Regions from separate parts of the Homo sapiens genome. Here regions 1 and 2 are each reported to be linked to region 3. The links are microRNA targets in miRTarBase. Many come from high-throughput screens and were not tested one by one. Region 3 holds a microRNA gene; each other region holds the end of a gene's coding sequence.

Region 1 (4,214 bases), not on the chromosome of region 3:
TAGTTGATGGGTCTTGAGGACATAATTTTTTTAGACCTACAGAAGGAACACGACCTGGAGCTAGAACTGGGGAAAAGAGGAAATTTAAGACAAATGGATGGCATAAATGTGGCAGATGCTTTAATGCTTATTTGTCTTTTGCTTTTCCTATTCCACCCCCGCCGCCGCCTGGATTTCCTGAGAAGCTGAAATGCAAACGGAGCCCAATTTTCCCACTCTCTCAAACTTATTTTGAGATTATTCTTTAAAAGAATCCGAGACACACATTTTATCATATTCACCCCAAAACTGGTGGAGGAATCCGCTTAGAGTGAACTTCTCTTCAGAACTAGAAAACTTTGAAAGGCCAAACTATCACTCATTGACACCCACTTCAATGATAGTTTGGCCTCTTCAGGAGGTCCCTTTTTGTTTTTTTTTCATGGATTGACAGTTAAAGGCGTCTTAGAATAGTCTTACTACTCCTTCAAGCCATATATAGATTCGCTTACCAGAAAGCAAAGCATTTTTTTTTGTTTTGCACAGTTTCCTACTACATAAAATAGGAAATTCATTTTCATGATGTTTTATTAACATAATACTCTTATTTTTATGTGGTAAAGGTTTTATTTAAAGCAAATTCTTAAATTCTTAATACCTACATTGATCATTATTATATAATACACATGTGTTTGCCTGCAACATTTCTGCTTGAGGCAGACTTTAAAAAAAACCCTTTGTAAATCTTTTCATTTGTTCTGTCCTGTTTTTCCAACAATGAAATCCAGTCATACTTTTCTATAAAATAACGGTTTTTTTACAAATGCATTTTATTTAAAACTGATGATGTTTCAAGTCAATAACAGCAAAAACAAATCAACTTTTTATGGAAGAGTTCTATGTTTAAAAATACCTCTAGTGCTTTTTTTTTTTAACATTAACAACTGTTTAAAATCGCAGCTTTTAAAATGTACTATTCTTTTTGAACATCAAGTGTTTTCCTTCACAGATTTGCCGGTGAAATTAAAAAGATTTGGCTAAAATAAGATGACTTCAGATGATATAATCTCAACTCTTAAGAAACTTTGTACATTTGGCATCTGATCTAGTCCCAAGTCACCAAGAAATAGAGGCTCTCTAGTCACTGTGGAGCAGTAGGTGGCACACTAAATGTTTTAAAATGTATTACCCTCCAAAGAAAAGCCATTCAGTTACTAGGTGTTTTTAGGGTAGAATATCACATCTAAACCTCCAAATTCCTCTGTCCCTGACCCTAAATTTAAATGTTTTTTGGGTGCCTGGTTATTTATTGGTTTTCACCACTCTGGATCAAGTGCTGTGGTTTAAGAGTTTCTGCAGTTAAAAAATAATAACTTTTATAAACACAGGCAACTAATATAGAATTCATTTTATTTAGAGCACCACTTTTCATGAGTTATCTGAAAGTGAATTCTGATTCAGCAAAAAAATACATCATTCTCAATCTCTCCCCTTTTTGTCCCCCTTCAACACCCTACCCTCCCCCCATTTCTTTGTGTTTTCTTTTTGTTTGGTTGTTTGTTGAAAGGTTCTACCAGGACCTGGCCCAGTATAAACACAAAAACGCACCCAAATCATAAAACTGCTCTTCTTTCAGTTATGTTTTATTTGTAAGTGTACTGGGACACATCCCCCTGTTGTATTTTGGCGCATAGAATTGGTTCTGATAGAAGTAAGGGAGGAGAAAGGTAAAAGAGAAAAAACATAACCAAGGAGAAAGCTCAGCAGACATACATGGACAGGTAGATCAATCCGTGAGACATTTCAGGATGAACACTGGCAGTCTGTTACCACTGTGTGAATGTGTGCATTAAATAAAATATTTACAATAATCTTTTTTCCTTTTTCTTTGAATACAAGAATATGACAAAAATGTTTTCAGTGGAAACAGGCAGTAGACTGTGAAATCGCACTAGCCACAAAACGGTCTACCAGAAAGCTAGCCCAGTTTAGTGCTCAGTTTCAAATGCATAGAATGTTTGCCCTGCAAACAATGATATACAACATAATTAAATAAATAATGCCTAACCAGAGTGAGACCTAATTGTGTTTCTTTCCACACCTTTCAGATCATGCATGATTTCAGTCTTGTTAATCGGCAGGTTTTTTTTCTTTTCTCATTTGTTCTGTTTTCAATGTTTTAGTTATGATTAAAGGATGGTAACAAACCATCTCTACGAGAGATCCAAAGAGTATCTTGTACACAAAGCAGGCATTTTACCTAACCACCTTCAACTATCTTAATTTTTTAAAATCCACCAGCAGCTTGTAAGGTACCTGATTATTACTATGAAATACTATACATGATTTTCTATTTGGGAGACTGGTAGTGCAAATTAAAGTTCTTGCTACCCAACATTTATCCCCTGTAATAAATGACTCTTGAATAATAAGAACAAGTAAAAGGAAACACAGTTGTTCTGTTTTCGCCCAACATGCAGACCTCTTTGAAACAAATGGGGGTGGGGGCACTTTAAATCTGTCTTCCTCTTTTCTGGGATTTAGGTGATTTTCTCACAGCCAAGTCCTACCGCAAAAGAAAGCAGGAACTTCTCAACATTTCTATAATTTCATGTCCTCCAAGAGAGGAAGAAACGGGACCTAGAAGAGCAAGATGAGTCTCGTTCAGTGGAGAAAACAGGAGAGAGTATCTCTCCTAATAACTTTCACCCCATTAGTCTATTTGAATCAACAGGAAAAATCAGTAGTTTAAACCTCTCTCTAAAAAAAAGATAAAACTGAAAGGGCAAGTTAAAGTTCTATGAGTGGGAAAAGCTTATTTTGAAATTGTCTAAAACTAGATCTTCGACATAAGAGGAAAAAAAACTGTTGTTAAAATTGTTTCATTTTCCTAGAATAAGATATCTCGAAGCTCCGGAATTCTGCTTTTTAGTAGCTCAAAGACTATGCCCTTCTCTCCAAAGACCCCCACCCCAACAGGACCAGGCCACCAGAGTATAGGCAGGGCCACGGGAAAACTTGGATTCCACCTAAGCAAGCAGCCAGCCTCCCCCTGACCCTCTCTTTTCAGCTGTGCTCCCACTCACTTCCCGGGATTGGAGAGCAGCCATAGGCCTCTCATTGGAACGGAGGAAATAAAGAGGATATGGATGGGGTGGAGGTGAGAGAGGGAAAAATTAAACACGCAGACAGAACAACTAGCTTTGATACCCAGAACTTCAACTTCTCGCTCGTTTGGTTTTCGTTTTTCGACTCAGTTCGTGCGTGTAGGGTTGGGGAGGTGGTAATAATGGTGGTGCTCTTTTTTCTCTTCTATGGGGGAAAATGAAGTTGCAGATTATGGCTCCCCGGAGTTAAAATTTCTAAAGCATTTTCCTTTGCTTTTGTTCTGTTTTGTTTTAGTTTGTCTTTATTTGTCTAGTTTTTGGTGGTTGGTAGGTTTGTTTTTGTACATAGTTCCTTGGTCCCCAGGATATTTAGGTAAGTGTCTCTGGTCAGAAACAGTCCATTTTCCTACCCTTCCCGCGTCTCCCCCCACCCAAACCCCAGAACCATCCTGCTCCTTAAAACCCCTGCTCGGGTCTCCGCTTTCCTTCCCCCCACTCCCCACTCCCCCGAATGCTCCCCCCCTTCTCCCCTACCCTATACTCCAATCCCCACACCCAGCACCCCAGTCCTCAAGGCTAGGGGACAGCAAAGGCAGGAAAATCAGAGAATGGGTGGAGGAAAGAGAGCGAGAAGGGACTCCCCAAATGCAGGCAGGATAACGGACACTCCAAATCCGAGGGGAGGCAAGCAGAGGAAAGCCCCCCAAAAATGCCTCCTCAGCTCCCCATTCTGTCCCGCCCGACACCTCCCAGCCCCCTCAGTAAGTGGCAGAGAATTTCATCCGCTTCTGCTTCTGTCTCTGGTTGCAAAACCACACCCGCACCACGTTCTTTTTGAGGTCCAGTTTCTCGGCGATGGCGGCGATCTTCTCGGACGAGGGCCGGGGCTGCACGGCGAAGTAGGCCTCGAGGGAGCGCTTCTCGGGCGCGGCGATGGAAGTCCGCTTGCGCTTCTTCTCGCCGCCGTTGAAGAGCTCAGGCTTGTTCATTTTCTCGCGCTGGGCGCCCTCGGCCTCCTCGAGCCACGCCTGCAGGATGGGCTTGAGCGCGATCATGTTGTTGTGCGAGAGCGTGAGCGACTCGAACCTGCAGATGGTGCTCTGGCTGAGTGAGCCCACGCCCGGGATC
Region 2 (4,207 bases), not on the chromosome of region 3:
TATTGGAATGCTAATGCCTTGAAGCTGCATGTTTTGAAAAAAGTAGTGGAATAAAACCAAAACACTCACTCCACTGTTTGTTTTTAGAGAACACTTCTAAGGCGAGCCACTCCACACCCAGGGGAGTTAAAGCACATGAAAAAGACAGTGGAGAATTTACGGAATGACATGAATGCTGCTAAAGGACTGGACTCAAACAAAAACGAGGTCAATCATGCCATTGACCGAGTGACCACTTCTGTGTAGAGTTTCACCTCCAAGTTTTACCTCCTGTGTCTTCCTCTGCTGTCGAGACGTTCCTGTCTGCTTCCCGGGAGCCTCACGTGCTCCTTGTCCTAACCAGCCCCCGCGCGCCATCTTCCCGTGGAGTGTGGGGAAGCTGCTGTCTCCCAGGAAGTGCCTTACTCATCCCGCAACCAGTCAGCGCACCAGTGGTCTCCCGGTGTGATTTTTTTTTTTTTTAATTTCAGTTGTTTGTAATAAGTAGAATACACTACTGTAAACATACGACCTTTGTTTTTGTCTTATGTTGGGGTAAAGGAAAGCAGGAAGGGGAATTTTTATCCTCCTCCCTTCCGTAAAGTGCTGGGATATTTTGAATCCCCCAAGTTCCCTTGGACCTACTGATGAGAGATAGTTTTATGTATGGGGAAAAATGGATACTTTTTAAACCTTTTTTGGCAGCTCAGATGGTGTAAATTTTAAAATTTTGTATAGGTATTTCATAACAAAAATATGTATTTCTTTTTTGTTATTTTATCTTGAAAACGGTACATATTTTAGTATTTGTGCAGAAAAACAAGTCCTAAAGTATTTGTTTTTATTTGTACCATCCACTTGTGCCTTACTGTATCCTGTGTCATGTCCAATCAGTTGTAAACAATGGCATCTTTGAACAGTGTGATGAGAATAGGAATGTGGTGTTTTAAAGCAGTGTTGCATTTTAATCAGTAATCTACCTGGTGGATTTGTTTTTAACCAAAAAGATGAATTATCAATGATTTGTAATTATATCAGTTGATTTTTTTTGAAAAGATGAACCAAAGGATTTGACTGCTAATATTTTATTCCTTACACTTTTTTTCTGAATAAGTCTCTCATAATGAGTGCAGTGTCAGACTGTGCCTACTCTGATGGTATGTGCCATTTGTAAAATAAAATAGAGCAGAAAAACACAAAAAGAGAACACTGGTTCAGACATTCAGTGGGCAAGTAAATTATGGACTGCAAAATAATGATTTTTATTCAAGAAAGCTTTAAAAGTTTTATATCCAGATATACAACCACAATAAAGCAAAATAACCTACTATCAAAATAGAAATGTTGCTATCTTTATAAGTGCAATTTAATTTGTAAATAGAGTTTGAATCAAAGTATCACAAAATACTGCTTCAAGATTTAATTTTAAATCTGCTAATTTAAGGGATATTGGGAAAAGTTTTGGTGTGTTTCTGTTGATTTCTTTTTTGTATGCTGTGATAAAAGAGAAATGAAAAGTGCCAGTCACTGTGTGGTGTCTAGGAAAATCATATATATTTTTTTCTCCAAGAAATAAATTCATCCTGGACATTGGCCATACAGCTTTTTAAAATTATTACTTTGTATGTTCAAGTGATAGCAGGTAGCCAAATTCTTTGACAGTGTGCTCTGGTCTGTTAAATATCTAAATTACCCGTCAGTTGTGAGTGACCTCCTGTGGGACTTGCATTCACATGGGGCAGAGCCCAGAATTGCCTTTGACTCTGGCTAGTAATTTTGGGTTGTGGCTATCTGGCCAATTGGACTCCTTATAAACCCGTCTTCAACCAACCAAATACAATACTTTTTTTTACTTCTATACATTTACTTATTGGGTTCACTTAGCTTTTTAGTCTGTGTGTATGTAAATATGTGTGTATTTTAAAAACTATTTATGGAGCTGAAAGTACATAACACATAAGTGAGTTTCGGCTGGTCAGTTTTATACCTTGTTCCCTAATCTGTGCATACCAATTTTCTTTTCTCTGTTTTAAGATTTTTGACATCCTCTATTTTGTTTTAAGCTTATAAAGATAATGCCACTATCTCATGGGCTGATTATATATAAGCAAATTGGTTTTATTTAATGAGAATTGTCTTGACGTGGAAGAACAAGTAGAACTTGCATGGCGTGTTTTGTTTGTTTTTATATAAAGCCCATCCTTTACTACTCAGTTCATCATGGCTTTTCTGGACTGGAGGTGGACAGAATGGTGTGTGTGTGCTTAAATTTTCCTAGGAAATGTCATGCACCTAGTTTATTTCCTTTGGCCTATCTCCTTTAGTTCATGTTCACTTAGTTTGCTTTTTGTTTTCAGTTTGGGGGATTTTGTTTGTTTCCCCGCTTCCTTTGAGAGGGAAATGTCGCTTTCATCTGAATGTTTTACGCTGGTGACACTGCAGTGCTCTTGAACTTCAGGGTGCTGGAACCAAACTCAAGCTTCACAGTGGAAACAGCACCAGCCAGACAGTTCTGCCTTGAGAACATGCCAAGCCGTTTCTAGGAAGGCCCCTCTCATAGTTATAAGAAAAACTTGATTATGTGAAACGATACCTTTCTCTGTCAGTGCCCCCCCCCCCCCCACCACGACCCCCGTCCCCATCCAGCCCTTCCTTTAGGAAAGGGAGGAGTACAGTATATGGCTGGCTGTTTGTCTTGTGGGAGTGACAGGTGAAAGCAGGAAAGGAGGTTAGTATGACCTGTTCACCCACTTTTTTTTTTCCCATAGCCAGTTATTTCTTCTTTTTAGCAAGAAAATAATGTCTCAGTGGGTAAAATAGCCAGAGAAAAAATGAGAGGAAGTGAAATAATCAAAGTCATTGATAATGAATAGAGGGATTGGTAAGAAATCATAAAATGTCTGCCTAGATATTGTTTTTTTTCTGGAAAGTTTGGAGGAATTGTCCTGACTGACCCAATCTTTCTGTCTAAAAACATACTAGCTGGCTGTCAATGAGGTGAGCAGGCAAGGTGGGATCACTCGCACCAGCCTCTCATAGCAGCACTTCTGCCATCTCCTGTGAAATCTACCACACCCAACAAGACATGCTTAGTGAATGGGGTGGAGGCTGGGAAAATTCTGTGTCTGAGAGTTACTCTGAACAGCCAGTCCTTCCCTGGTAAAATGACTGACGCTTGGTCGGCCACAGTGGCTCATAGCTGTAATGCCAGCACTTTGGGAGGCTGAGGTGGGAGATCACAAGGTCAGGAGTTCGAGACCAACCTGGCCAACATGGTGGAAACCTGTTTCTATTAAAAATACATAAAATTAGCCAGGTGTGGTGGCGGGCACCTGTAATCCCAGCTACGCAGGAGGCTGAGGCAGGAGAATTGCTTGAACCTGGGAGGCGGAAGTTGCCGTGAGCCGAGATCGTGCCACTGCACTCCGGCCTGGGCGACAGAGCAAGACTGTCTTAGAGAAAAAAAGAAAGAAAATGAGTGATGCTCTGCCCTGGGCATGCTGCTGGTGTGTGGCAAGGCTGCAGCAGCACTCTCAAACAAGGGACTGCATTGCAGCTGCTTATTAATAGAAGGCAATTAGGGACATTGCCACTCAGTGACATCCATGGAGAGTTGCAATCTCACTTCACCATTGTTGTTGTCTTACCTCATCCAATTTTCCAAAGAGCCAATTAAAAAAAAAAAAGAGATAACTTTATTATGGAAAATTCAAAACATACAAAAGTAGAATCATCATTGACCCTCCTATAGCTATCACTCACCTTCAATAATTAGCAACACAAGACTAAGGCATTTAAAAATGCATGTTTTTAAAACATGTATTATGTTTTAAAATATGTCTATAAGAAAGTGCACAATGAAGCATTTTTTTTTAAAGCTCTGGAAAAGCAAGCAAATGTGCTTTTTAAAACTGCTTTGGAGTTACAATTTTTGAGTCAATATGCCAGTGGAATCATGCATATGGATATAGGTCTGAATCCCAGCCTGCCACGTAGGTATGGACAAACTAACCTCTCTGGGCCTCAGGTCCTTCATCTTTAAAATGGGGCAGTAATAGTCCTTTCAGGCTTAGAGTGAGGATTAAGTGGGATACATAAAACACGCTCTCAGGAAGTGGGTGGCTGCTATTATTACAGGTCTTGCTGTTTTTGTTGTTATAGTAGTGTTATTAGCACCCCTGCAATTCCTGCCACCAAGCCAACAGTGTGTCATCAGATGGGTATGTTC
Region 3 (4,242 bases):
TCCCTTCCCACTGACCCACCCACATATCCCCACGTGTTGAGTTCAAGAAGATACCCTTAACATCAAAGGAAACTTCTAGTATCAAAAAGCAGGAGACCTCAGAAGAGAGTTTGTTGAGTGAATGAAGGACCCAAAATAGCAAAGTTAGAATGGCTGGATGATTTGTGGATACTTAGGGGCCGAGGAGCTCCCCATACCCTACTCCCTAATGCCTTTTTTTTTTTTTTTTTTTTGAGACACAGTTTCACTCTTGTTGCCCAGGCTGGAGTACAATGGCACGATCTTGGCTCACTGCAACCTCCACCTCCCAGGTTCAAGCCATTCTTCTGCCTCAGCCTCCCAAGTAGCTGGGATTACAGGTGCCTGCCACCACGCCTGGCTAATTATTTTGTATTTTTAGTAGAGACAGGGTTTCACTATGTTAGCCAGGCTGGTCTTGAACTCCTGACCTCAGGTGATCCACCCGCCTCGGCCTCTCAAAGTGATGGGATTACAGGCGTAAGCCACCGTGCCTGGCCACTACTCCCAAATGTCTTACATAAAGCAGCCTCTTTCTGGCTTGGAGGAAAAGATCAATGAGGCACATGGAAAGCAGGAGTTCCATGTTCTAGAAGAGCAAGTGCGCATGCGCGTGCGTGTGTGTATGTGCGTGCGTGTGTGTGGACAGTGTGTGTGTGCCTGTGTGTACAGCATCCCAGTGTTCTCCCACCCCTAAAGATAGATTTGGAGACAGAGAGAAAAGTCTTCTGCCCTTGTCCTAGGTGTTTCTCCTCACCAACCCCAACAGACCACACTTTGGAGAAAGATTGTGGGCAGGCCCCCTTCCAAGCTGGATTTCAACAACATTGCCAGCTTCTGTTGAAACAGATCCGAAAGGGTCCACTCCAAGCATGTATCGTAGAACTTCTCATGCTTCCAACTTCAATGTCATTGACTTTCCAGAAGCAACCTATACCTCGGGTTTGCTCTTGATACATCAAGAACTTTGATTTGCGCCTCCTCCTGTCACCTTGATCATTCCCAAATTCGTATTCTTCCTTCTGTGGCCTCCTTATCCATTTCTATAGGAACTGTAAATGTTGCACTAGGGATGATTTTGTTTTTGTGTGTGTGCTTGCTCAGAAAATGAACCCATTGATCTTGATTTGAGGTGAAGAAAGAAATCTAAAAAGATCATTACTGGTCCTTTTATTTCTCTCTAGGCTTCCAACGAGTAGTTTTTTTGCCTGGGATCCTCTCTACAGCTGGGAGAGGCTCGGAACTGAGGTGCTGACAGCTTGTGTTGGAATCGCATGGTGTTTACTGTGCTGGGAGTTTATAACGGCCTTGTTTCCATACTGACAGCAAATGCCATATGGAGAGAAAAAAAAATCTGTCAAATGAACCCTTAAGGGATCACAATATGGCACATGAAATCTCAAAACTGCTTTTGGAAAAGGTGGGGGTAGAGGGGTACCTTGCTTAAATCACATAAGCAGCATGGTGCTCTCTCCCATAATTGAATAAAAATGGAATTTGACACAAGGTAATTTACTTTGGTTCTGTGTTTGTGCTGGGAAAAACTGATTGGGAAAGGATGCAAAGATTTGTTTTCCTCCCCTTGGGGGATTGTGTTGAGTGGGAGGCAACGGGAATGCAGGCTGTATCTGCAGGGCATTGTGCTAACAGGTGCAGGCTGCAGACCTGTCACAGGCCGCTGAGACCAGGTTCCCTACTGTGGCTGATGATCACACTCATCTAGCTTGACATTTTATTACTGTCATTTGAGATCTTGTCTGTTCACCCACACACACTCCTGCTGACCTCTCCAATCTGAGTCCAAGCTCCCTGCGGGCTGGGACCACATCCCTAGGTACCCCTCCCCGTCAGAACCTGGCACACACTGAGGCTAAATGCTTGTTGGAGTGGCTATTTGTGAACCATCTGTGCTGGGAGCGGTGGAGACTGCGCCCACGGCTGAAGGGCAGAGTTTAGGCTGCAGTCCAGGGCTAGTTGGAGCCACAAAACCATTTGAGAGTGGGCCAAGAGGGGACTTGGCAGGTTGCTCATCCATGCTGATCCAAATACTCACTCGGGAGAGAATGAAACGTTTTAGAGTGCCTTCTTCAACATACGCTACTTAGACCGGGCGAATTCCTCCCAAAAAAACCTTGCCCTCAGGTAGGTTACCCATGAAAGAAGGGGGCCTGGCCGCGGCTCTTTCCGTTCCAGGAGGCAGACAGCGGAGTGCTGAGGCCGTGTCCCCGTGTGGTGAATAAATGCCCGGGAGGGCGGGCTGCCTTCAGGGCTCCTCTCTCCGCTCATCTCCGCTTGTGTGCGGGCTGCGCCTCCGTGGGCTCTCGCTGCGTGGGGGGAAGGCGGTCTCAGCAGCCCTCGGCTGACCAGTCATCCCCAAGAACCCTGCTGGCATCCCAGGGAACAGACAGTGTCTTTCCTGGAAGTTCTGGCAAAAGCCCTGGGAGGACTCCGGGGCCCCCACGGATCACAGGCCCTGACCTGATTGGCTAGAACTGAGGCATGGCCACCCTTGAACCTGTCATTATGGCCAGAGAGAGAGGCCTCTGATTGGCTGTGACTAAGTGACGTGTCCATCCGTGACCGTAGCACTGTGGCCAGGAGACAGAGGCCTTTTGATTGGCTGTGACTGAGTCACGTGCCTGTCTCCGTAGCATGGGAGGCGTCAGCTCCCCTTTTAGATTCAGAGGCTTGGGTTGAATTGGTGCAGACTGGGAGAAAGGAGGTTCCCTAAAGGAAAGGGAGATGGAACAGACCAAATTATCACATCCATAACGATGAGAAATGGGGTTTATTAATGTGCCAGCATCTGGTCTGAGTGGTTTCTATGTATTGTCTTATTCATTCTTCGGGACGGTCCTAGGAGTTAGGTCTGCTTACCGTCCGCAGTTTACAGACTAGACAACTGAGGGGCAGTGTCAAGCCTGTTGCCCCAGGTTACACAGGCAGTGAGCGATGGGCTGGGATTCAAACCAAGGCAGTTTAGCTCCAGAGCCCACACTGACACTCACAGCTACCACGAGATCCTCCCTCCCGGCAAGCCATAGCTTTACATCCTGTGGATAAGCATTTTGAGACTAAGAATCAAAGTGTGCCAGCGCAGTGGTTGTGTTCATATCCCCTTGTTGCCTGGCGTATCTCAAGAGAAATCCTTTCTAGGGGGGATGGTGTCTTAGCTCCTCTACACCAGGTAGACTATAGTCATCCCTTCCCTGCAAGTTGCTGTCCTTCCCAGGCTCTATCGCCCTCTTCCCTGTTTCCCACGAACTCATCCGACTGTGTCCCGTGCAGCTGCAACATCGATGGCCTAGTGTTCCGTGCTCCAGAGAGCCTGAGACAGCATGTTTCAGTGGTTCCTTCGAGTATCTTCCTGGCCAGAGAGAACTTCTTGGAGAGGCTTTAGCATCACTGCAGGAAGAACCAAAAGGGAAAGGGCCCCCATCCCAACTCCAGCATGCCCTTCTTGTTTTCAGAGGAGAACACAGAGGCCCAGAGAGGGCAAGTGAATTGCTTGAAGTAACACAGCAAATTGTTGGCTAACACCATGGTCTCTGGGCCTCTTGGTGGGAGTCTTGCAGTATTTCCTCTTCAGAACCCTCTTGGCTATTGAGTGGGTAAGCGCGGGTGACTTCCTGTCTCTGTGCCTTTAGTGCCTAACTGGAAAAGTCAGGGTTTTCATAATTTGAAGCATCCTAAGACTGGGCTTTTCTCCAGTTGGGCAAAAATGATTTTTAAAAACTGTATCCATTAGGATGCTTTGAATTAGAAGTAATTTCTAAAAGTGTTCAAACTGCCCTAAACAAGGAGAATGTGTTGTCTCATAAATCAGCTTTTCAGATATGGTTTGAGCTACAGGCATGGTTTGATCCAGAGATTCATGACATCACCAGGGCACCAACTCTACTTCTTCTAATTTCCCAGCTCTCACCTCCTTGATGTGTCAGGCTCATCCTCATCGCGGCTTTTCTTGCAGTGTCAAGAACACTGCTGCAGCACCTGGCTTCACACCCACTCACCATGACCTCCAGAGGAAGAGAGCACCTCTGCTCCAGTGTTCCCAGGGAGTCTGCAGTCCACTCTGATTCGACTGGCTTACATTACAGGCCTGCCACCCTTATCCAGTCACTGTAATCAGAGAATGTGATGTGCTTAATGGCCACCAAGGAGATGGAATCACAGTCCCCAGAACTGCTGGCATGTCCATACAGAAATCAGAGCATTGGACTG

Evidence for each region. The annotated mature microRNA hsa-miR-4681 reads AACGGGAAUGCAGGCUGUAUCU and lies in region 3 at 1,627-1,648, shown strand. An mRNA with a match to its seed (bases 2 to 7 or 8) in the 3' UTR can be bound and repressed. Matches are read on the target gene's strand: a 7mer-m8 pairs with bases 2 to 8, a 7mer-A1 pairs with bases 2 to 7 and ends in A, and an 8mer does both.
Region 1: miRTarBase lists POU4F1 as a target of hsa-miR-4681. Seed matches in the 3' UTR shown: 7mer-m8 at 2,988-2,994.
Region 2: miRTarBase lists LRRC1 as a target of hsa-miR-4681. Seed matches in the 3' UTR shown: 7mer-m8 at 359-365.

The regions. Positions count from the first base shown.
Region 1 is chr13:78,597,571-78,601,784 of GRCh38, forward strand. POU4F1 (POU class 4 homeobox 1) reads right to left here. Exons shown (of 2, transcript NM_006237.4): 2 at 792-4,214. The coding sequence ends at 3,845. The region is part of intron 3 of OBI1-AS1 (OBI1 antisense RNA 1); the gene reads left to right. LOC780529 (a long non-coding RNA gene) reads left to right here. Exons shown (of 1, transcript NR_158457.1): 1 at 1-2,049. Among named protein-coding and RNA genes, the nearest start is that of POU4F1, 3.9 kb to the right of the region's middle.
Region 2 is chr6:53,922,548-53,926,754 of GRCh38, forward strand. It overlaps LRRC1 (leucine rich repeat containing 1), which reads left to right. Exons shown (of 14, transcript NM_018214.5): 14 at 88-1,578. The coding sequence ends at 246. Among named protein-coding and RNA genes, the nearest start is that of MLIP-IT1, 74 kb to the right of the region's middle.
Region 3 is chr10:119,376,349-119,380,590 of GRCh38, forward strand. MIR4681 (microRNA 4681) reads left to right here and starts at 1,624; the gene lies at 1,624-1,695. The region is part of intron 2 of GRK5 (G protein-coupled receptor kinase 5); the gene reads left to right.